Linked DNA regions of Homo sapiens: region 1 is reported to be linked to region 2. The links are microRNA targets in miRTarBase. Many come from high-throughput screens and were not tested one by one. Region 2 holds a microRNA gene; the other region holds the end of a gene's coding sequence.

What was found. The annotated mature microRNA hsa-miR-649 reads AAACCUGUGUUGUUCAAGAGUC and lies in region 2 at 3,094-3,115, shown strand. An mRNA with a match to its seed (bases 2 to 7 or 8) in the 3' UTR can be bound and repressed. Matches are read on the target gene's strand: a 7mer-m8 pairs with bases 2 to 8, a 7mer-A1 pairs with bases 2 to 7 and ends in A, and an 8mer does both.
Region 1: miRTarBase lists CKAP2 as a target of hsa-miR-649. Seed matches in the 3' UTR shown: 8mer at 3,118-3,125.

Annotation. Positions count from the first base shown.
Region 1 is chr13:52,474,541-52,478,540 of GRCh38, reverse strand. CKAP2 (cytoskeleton associated protein 2) reads right to left here. Exons shown (of 9, transcript NM_018204.5): 9 at 1,914-3,646. The coding sequence ends at 3,400. Among named protein-coding and RNA genes, the nearest start is that of CKAP2, 21 kb to the right of the region's middle.
Region 2 is chr22:21,032,711-21,037,305 of GRCh38, reverse strand. MIR649 (microRNA 649) reads left to right here and starts at 3,034; the gene lies at 3,034-3,130.

The DNA.
Region 1 (4,000 bases), not on the chromosome of region 2:
ACACAATGAATCTGGAGATAAGAAAATGCATTTATTTGTCCAAGTCAGTGAATATGCATGAAGCACCCATTAGGTGCATCTCCTATTCAAGGCACTGGGGATAAAGCAGTGAACAAAATAGAAAATAAAAATCCTGGCCGGGCGCGGTGGCTCACGCCTGTAATCTCAGCACTTTGGGAGACCGAGGCGGGCAGATCATGAGTTCAAGAGATCGAGACCATCCTGGATAACACGGTGAAACCACGTCTCTGCTAAAAATACCCAAAATTAGCCGGGTATGGTGGTGGGTGCCTGTAGTCCCAGCTACTCAGGAGGCTGAGGCAGGAGAATGGCGTGAACCCGGGAGGCAGAGCTTGCAGTGAGCCGAGATCATGCCACTGCACTCCAACCTGGGCCACAGAGCAAGATTGCATATCAAAAAAAGAAAAAGGAATGAAAATCCCTGCCCTCTAGGATTAGATTCTAGTCGGGAACACAGACAATGAGCAAATAAATACGTGAATATTTAATTGAATAAGTGCTCTGAGGAAAAATAAATCAGGTAAGGAGGATATGGAATTAGGGTTGGGAGAGGTATGAATCTAATGTAATAGAGTGATAAAAGGTTTCAGTGAGCAAGTGCAAAGGCCATGTAATTAAACTGATTTTTCTGGAATGTGTTTCAATCTAGGGAAAGCAAAAGCTAGACTGCAATTAATTGAAGAGTGAATGGAAAAGAGGAAGAAAATTGCTAATAAAAGAGGAGCAATGGAGTAGATAACTTCTCCTTCTCCAAGAAGCTTGATGCTAAAGGGAAAGCATGAGTTCCTAAGCACAGGTAGAAGAGGTAAAGAAAAAGTAGGAAAAAAAGGCTTAGAAACAGATAGGTGTGTAGGTTGGAGGATACAAAGCCAGGATGTGAAGTTGCACAGTCTCTCAGAGGCCATCTTTCACTCTTGTCCGTGAGAATATTGCTCCCTAGAGTTGTGAAACAGGTGTTACCAACTCACCCCCTACACTGACTCCATCTTTGCTATAAATTGGAAAGAAAGAACATCTATTCTCAATAGAGCAAGTACAGGCATATCATGGTGGTTTTGACTGGTTGGGATACAGACAATAAACAAACACATATGTAGAATTTATCAAAAAAGCTAATGTCACAATGCAAAGGGAAGTTGAATCTAGGAATAAACAAAATGTTGGCCACATAGCATTGGAAGCTCAGAGGATGGTGGGCCACTCATGGGGCCCTTTACTTACACTGTCTCATTTAGTGTTACCAACAGTCCTGTGGCCGGGTGCGGTGGCTCACGCCTGTAATCCCAGCACTTCGGGAGGCCGAGACGGACAAGAATGGTGGTTTAGAGTTCAGTCCTGTTTCCCCTTACCTGAGGTCCACTTGACAGTGGTTGGCATTTTTATCTGGTATGGATCTGGGTTTCCAAAAAATTCAGCGTCAAGATGTTCTTTCATTACTATAGGAAACGAAACATTTTTTTCCTTATTCCAGGATGTTCAATTTACTTTTTTGAGGCTAGCTAGGTAGCTACCTGGAATTTCCCTTGAAGAGACTCAAGATTTTTCCTTTATTACTATACACGGGAAGATCCAAGCGGGCCCTTAAGAGGGGTCCCTGTTATGTCTCTACTGGATGCTTATGCACGGTATCACATCATTTAGCTTGGAACAAACCTAGGGGAGAGATAACATAGCTGTCCTTAAGCACCAGAAAAGGGGTTAGACCTCTGGTTGAATGTTAGAACTAGGAATATTTAGAGACAGATTTTCCCCTCAGGTAAAGGAGGAAAAAAAACACTCTTAAAAACTTGTCCAAACATAAAAGTTGTATCTTGAGTTCTCTAACAGAGGCATTTCAAACTCTGCTATACAGACAAATGAATTATATGGTACAGATATTAAAAAGCTGAGAGTGTATCAAAGCTTAAATTTTATTTCAAAATGGCATATTTTGGGTCAAAGTATGAAAAAACAAGGGCATAGTTATGTTTTTGTTAAAGTGAAAAAAATTAGGTAAAGTTTATGTAAGTAGACTGATGACTTTTGAAAATATATCATTAAGCATGTACTTAAGTGTCAAAAACCTCAAGTCAAATCTTACAATGTATTTCAAAAGCAAAGCTAAAATTCATTCACTGTGGTTAAACTGCATTTCATAAAATATCTGTTGAAATAAACTTCATTAAAACATAATTACACAGATATTTTAATTGTATATATATCAGGTACACGGAATAAAAGTCCTACTCTCTAGAACATGAGAAGTCAATAAATAGAAAAGATATACAAAGTGGAATGAACATAAAAATGACTAAGCATGTGATCTTCACATTCATACAGTTTTTCAACTAATCTTTTACAATTAAAAAGTCATTTATTTGAAACTGTAGAGTTGATATATGCCATATTAGTTTGGAACCTTACAAAACAACTTTAGTGGTGTTATTTATGTGTGGAGAGAAAACTGTGTATGTAACTATCATGTTTCAAGGGACATGACTTAACAGTGAAGTTTTTTATGTTATAGGGAAGAAAACAAGTATTAGTATCAGTTATCTTAGAAATGCTATCTAAACTAGAATGACATTTGTTCAGTATGATATGTTCTTTCCCTAACTCCATTCTAATTGCTTAAAAACTATCAAGTGAAGTTACAAAAGTTAAACCACTAAATGTGGCATCTTTTCTTACACAAAGTATCTTCTCTTAGAAATGCGGTATTTAATTAAGTAAACCTTCTTGGTGACCCCAGTTATAATCAAAAGAGGCCACGAAACTACAGACTACTGACGAAAAGTGTCAGTGCAGACACTTTCCATCAATCAACAGGCAGTCCAAGGGACGCAAGAGAACACAAGTCTGGGTAACATGAATTTGGTAAGAAAGCAGGCTAAACCTCCTGTGTCTTAGTATTCGAAGTGAGTCATTCTATAGAATTTTTGACTAATCTGAGAAAGGCCAAAAAAAAGAAAAAAGTATTCTGTTTAAAGGCAGGGAGGTACATCATAACTTTTAAAAACATGTCAAGGCAAACATACATTTTACCTAGAATACCTCATTTTCTAATTATGCATCATTACTGTACTTATATTTAGTAAAGTGAACAGGGTAGTATTATAACCTGTTTATATTCAAGGAACATAGTAAACTAGCTGACAAAATTTACCTTTCTTAAAGAAAAAACTCAGTTGGTTGAAACTGACAAGGTAGGATTAGCTTTCCAATGTAGAGGACAACTCTTGCCATAACATGAATGTTAGTAAAGGAGCTCACTGCCGTGAATGCTTAGGATACATAGGTACATGGCCAACTCCAGACCTAAGAGCAATATAAAGCTACTCAAAACAAAACACCCCACAAATAATAAAAACCCCATTCCCTAACAGAGCTTTATTTCTCTTATGTTGTATCAGCCTCATAGTACACCCGGCACAGTGCTGCATTAGGGCGGCATACAAAAGCATCAGTTTCTCTTCCCAACTCCGTTAGCTGTTCCAATGAAGACACACAAGGATAATGATCTTTTAACATATCTGGCAATTTAGAAGTTTTCTCTTGAAGACGTCGAGAACGTCTCACTGGTGTTAAAAACTTCAGCTCTTTAAATGCGGAATTTGTTCCATCAAACTGCACCTTTTTTTTCACACTGAAAATTAAAACAATATTCCAGAGTTCAAAAACATGTTAACATTTTTACTCTGTACTTTCATGATATGTACCATACTATATAGCTTGTATGTTATAAGCAGGTAAAAGCATTTAATTGTCTTTTAGAGAGGTACTATAAGCTCACCGAAGTGAGAAACTTATCCTTTTCTCAATTTGTCATTACAACTTGTATACAGTAGATACCTGAGTATCTGTAGAACTGGCTAATTCCTGAAAGCCAAAACCTACTGTTATTAATAACACACAGATTAAAGTAAATTCAAATAAAAGTTTTCTTTTTCAAAATGGCAATAGTTAGGGAAAGTAAATACAGTATTTAAGAGGTGAAATG
Region 2 (4,595 bases):
GGAGATTGAGACCATCCTGGCTAACACGGTGAAACCCCGTCTCTACCAAAAATACAAAAAAAAATTAGCCGGGCGTGGTGGCGGGTGCCTGTAGTCCCAGCTACGTGTGAGGCTGAGGCAGGAGAATGGCGTGAACCCAGGAGGCAGAGCTTGCAGTGAGCCGAGATCGTGCCACTGCACTCCAGCCTGGGCTACAGAGCGAGACTCCGTCTCAAAAAAAAAAAAAGAGTTCACTTTGGTAAGAATTCCTACCTGTGCCCGCTTTTATTTGTTCTCCCAGGATCCCATCTTTAGGCTTGAGAGGATCCCATCCTTGTCACCAGAAACTGTAGGGGTGGCAAAACTCCACTTCCATCCCTAGAGTCTCAGCTGGGCCCAAGAATTAAATTGACATAGGACAGGTTAACAGAAGAAAAGCACATAAATTTATTTATATGCTATTCTACATCTGATTTCTGTTCTTTAATCTTGCGAACAGAGTCCCTAAGGCTAGCCATTATATTTATTTATAAATAAGGGGTGCTGGAGTGCAGTGGTGAGATCACAGCTCATTGCAGCCTCAAACTCCTGGGCTCAAGCTATCCTCCCACCTCAGCCTCCTGAGTAGCTGGAACTGCAGGTACATGCCACCCACCACACCAATCTAATTAAAAAAAAAAAGTGTTGAACCGGGATCTCACTATATTGCCCAGACTGGTCTTGAACTCCTGGACTCAAGCAAGCCCCCCTCGGCCTCCCAAAGCACTGGGATCACAGGAGTGAGCCACCACACAGTCCCACAAATTTATTGAGTACAAGTTTTACATGGGTTGGGAACCCTCATAAGGACATTTGAAGACCCAAAGAAGAAGTTAGAGTCTGTTACTTATACACTGAATTGGACAAATAATAATAAGTTATGAAGAGGCAACTAAATTATATGGGGAGGCTTAAAAGATAACAGTGTTTTAACAAGGTCTGTATAGAATTCTCTCATTTCAACTTCTCATCCTTGAAGATAAGAATGTTGCATCTTTCACATGGCAACTTCATCTCCTGCATTTTAGAAATAGCACAGGCCTGGTTGGGTGGCTCACGCTTGTAATCCCAGCACATTGGGGAGGTTGAAGCAGGTGTATCACTTGAGGAAATGAGTTTGAGACTAACCTGGCCAACATGGGAAAACCCCATTTCTACTAAAAATACAAAATTTAGCCTGGTGTGACAGTGCACGCCTGCAGTCCCCAGCCATTCGGGAGGCTGAGACATGAGAATCGTTTGAATCCTGAAGGCAGAGGCTACAGTGAGCCAAGATCACTCCACTTCACTCCAGCCTGGGCGACAGAGTGAGACTCTGTCTCAAAAATAAAAAATAAAATTAAAACGAGCTATTCAGCCATGAAAAGTCATAGAGGAATCTCAAATGCATATTATTAAGGGAAAGAAGCCTGAAAAGGCAATATACTCTATAATCCCAACTATATAAGATTCTGCAAAAGTAAGACTAGACTATGGAGACAGGAAAAAGATCGGTGGTTGCCAGGTGTTAGCAGGGAGGGACAGGCAGAGCACAGAGGGTTTTTAGGGCAATGAAACTACTGTGTGTGATACAATAATGGTGTGTCTATGTGTCATTACACATTTGTCCAAACCCATAGAATGTACAACCGGAAGAATGAACCCTAATGTAAACTATAGACCTTGGGTGATAATGATGTGTCAATGTAGGTTAATCGATTGTAACAAATATGCCCCTTTGGTGCTGGATGTCAGTAGTGGGAGAGGGGGCTACACGTGTGTGGGAGCAGAAGTATATGGGAACTGTACTTTCTGCTCAATATTGCTGTGAACATAAAACTGCTCTGAAAACTCAACTTTTTTTTTTTTTAGATACAGGGTCTTGCTATGTTGCCCAGGCTGGAGTGAAGAGGCTATTCACAGGTATGATCAAGCTCACTGCAGCCTTGAGCCTCCTAGGCTCAAGCCATCCTCCCAACTCAGCCTTCTGAGTAACTGAGACTACAGGCGTGTACCACCATTCCCAGCTAATAAAGTCTATTTTTAAAAAATCACTTGACGATAAATGTAACTGTTTATTTGTGGACTGTCAATTCTATTCCGTTCATCTATGTGTCTACTCTTATGTCACCACCACAATCTTGATTACAGTCATTTTGCAATCAGTTTAGAAATCAGGAATTGTAAGTCCTCCAAAACTTTTTCAAAAGTATTTTGACTATTCTGGATCCCTTGCATTTCCACATGAATTTTGATGATTTTTGCAAAACAGGTAGTTGGGATTTCAATAGGAATTGCACTCAATCTATGCAACCCCTGAATCTGTAGACCAGTTTGGGGAATACTGCCATTTTATATTTAAAGTCTTACAGTCTATGAACATGGGATGTCTTTCCATTTATTTATGTTGCCTTTAATTTCTTTCTTTACTTTTTTCTTTTTTTTTTGAGACAGGGTCTGACTATCACCCAAGCTGGAGTGCAGTGGCACAAACATGCCTCACTGCAACCTCAACCTCCCAGGCTCAAGAAATCCTTCCACCTCAACACCACCCCCGACTCCCAGTAGCTGAGACCACAGGCACATGCCACCATGCCCATATAATTTTTTTACCTTTCCGTAGAGGTGAGGTCTCCCTATGTTACCCAGGCAAAATACCCAAGTATTTTGGCTATTCTGGATCCCTTGCATTTCCATATGAATTTTTTGTTTTTTGTTTTTTATTTTTTTTTGAGACAGAGTCTTGCTCTGTCACCCACGCTGGAGTGCAATGGCGCCATCTCAGCTCATTGCAACCTCTGCCTCCCGGGTTCAAGCGATTCTCCTGCCTCAGCCTCCCAAGTAGCTGCGATTACAGGCACCCACCACTTATTTTAATTTATTTATTTAGTAGTTTTGGAGACAGGGTCTTGCTTTGCCACCTAGGCTGAAGTGCAGTGACAGGATCATAGCTCACTGCAGCCTCAGACTCCTGGGTTCAAGTGATCCTCTCACCTCAGCCTCCCAAAGTGATGGGATTACCGGTGTGAGCCACTGGGCCTAGCCAAATACTGTATTTTTGATCGACATTTGGTTGAAAAATATCTATGTATTAGTAAACCTGTGTTGTTCAAGAGTCCACTGTGTTTTGCTGGGGATTTCTACATCTATATTCATAAGGGATTTTGGTCTGTGGTTTTCTTTTCTTGTGATGTCTTTGTTGAGTTTAGTGTCAGGGTAATCCTGGCCTTGCAGAATGAGTTAGAAAGTTTTTGTTTCCTGGTGGTTTGTCTTCACTGCATCACTGTGGGGTTGCTCTGTGTAGCTGTCTCACTCAGTAGTGAGGGAAATATCTCTGGAAATGTACAATTTACTGCATCAGCCCTGCTTAGTCTCACATATCCGTTGTATGTTGGTGCCTGTGGCAGAGGGTGTGGTGTCACACCTTCTCCAGGTAGATAAAAAGTCAACACTCCAAAACACTGGACACCAGCAATAAGGCAGTCATTGGTAAGGCCTTTGGGGAGCTCCCATTACAAATCTGCCTAACCCTCTGGCCTGAAGTGCCTAGACTTTTGTGGTGACATTTCAGGACAAGGGACGTCTGCTCAGGCAACACAGGGATGGGGTAAGGAAGCTACCATCCCACCGGAAGTGGGAGCCATCTGAGAAGTTCCTCAAGACAATACCAGCCAAATATTAGAAGGTATTGGCATTCTGGCCGAGGCAGAATGTTCCAAATTGGCACCATCTTGTCTGGGAGTCCATCATCCTGTCACCAGCCCAATAGGCTGGATAGGCTGCAGATGCTCCTAAGATTCCATTCCACAAACCACATGTAAGCCTGAACACATGTCTAGTATAGCGTTCTGGGGAGGCCAGGAGCCATGGTTCATGAATGTAATCACAGCCTTTTGGGAGGCCAAGAGTTCGAGACCAGCCCGGGCAGCATAGTGAGACCCAGTCTCTAAAAAAATTAAAATTAAAAAATTAGCCAGGTGTATTGTTGCATAGCTGCCTGCCTGGGGCGTGGGGCACTGGAATGCAGTACTCAGGACACAGTGGCTGTCGCTGATAAACACAAGTGGGGATCTGCTATTGGGGTCCCATAGGGCCCTCCCGGCCTGCCAGAGGTGCCTAGGCTAGGAAGGGCTGCCACTGGGGTCTGAGGAGCTCTACTCCCCCACAGGAGGGCTGCAGGCTGGTCCCAGAAGCTGCTTGCTTCCTTGCAGGACGTGGTAGCTGCAGGCTCAAAACAGCCAGAATGCATTCCCTCAATTCGCAGAACTCTCTCAAAAGGCTGCAGTCTCTTCCATTGTAAGAGTAGAGGTCAGGGACCGCCCCAGGCCACTCTGCCAGACCCATGTCTTCATCTAACTCACTGTGCCTGAAGCTCACATGACGGTGCTGTGGGGCCTGTCTGGGGCCCAGCTGGGTGGGGTTCATGTACTGGGGTGAGGGATCAAGAAGGGTGTCCGCTGCAGTAGAAAGAAGGTGGGCTGCGGACTTTCAGACGTGGCCCTTAACCTCCCCGAACTGACCTAGGCTAGTCAGTCAGCCGGCGGTCTGACCTTCTCCATCTGTGACTGAGTCACAGTCACAGGGCTTCCCTAGACCCC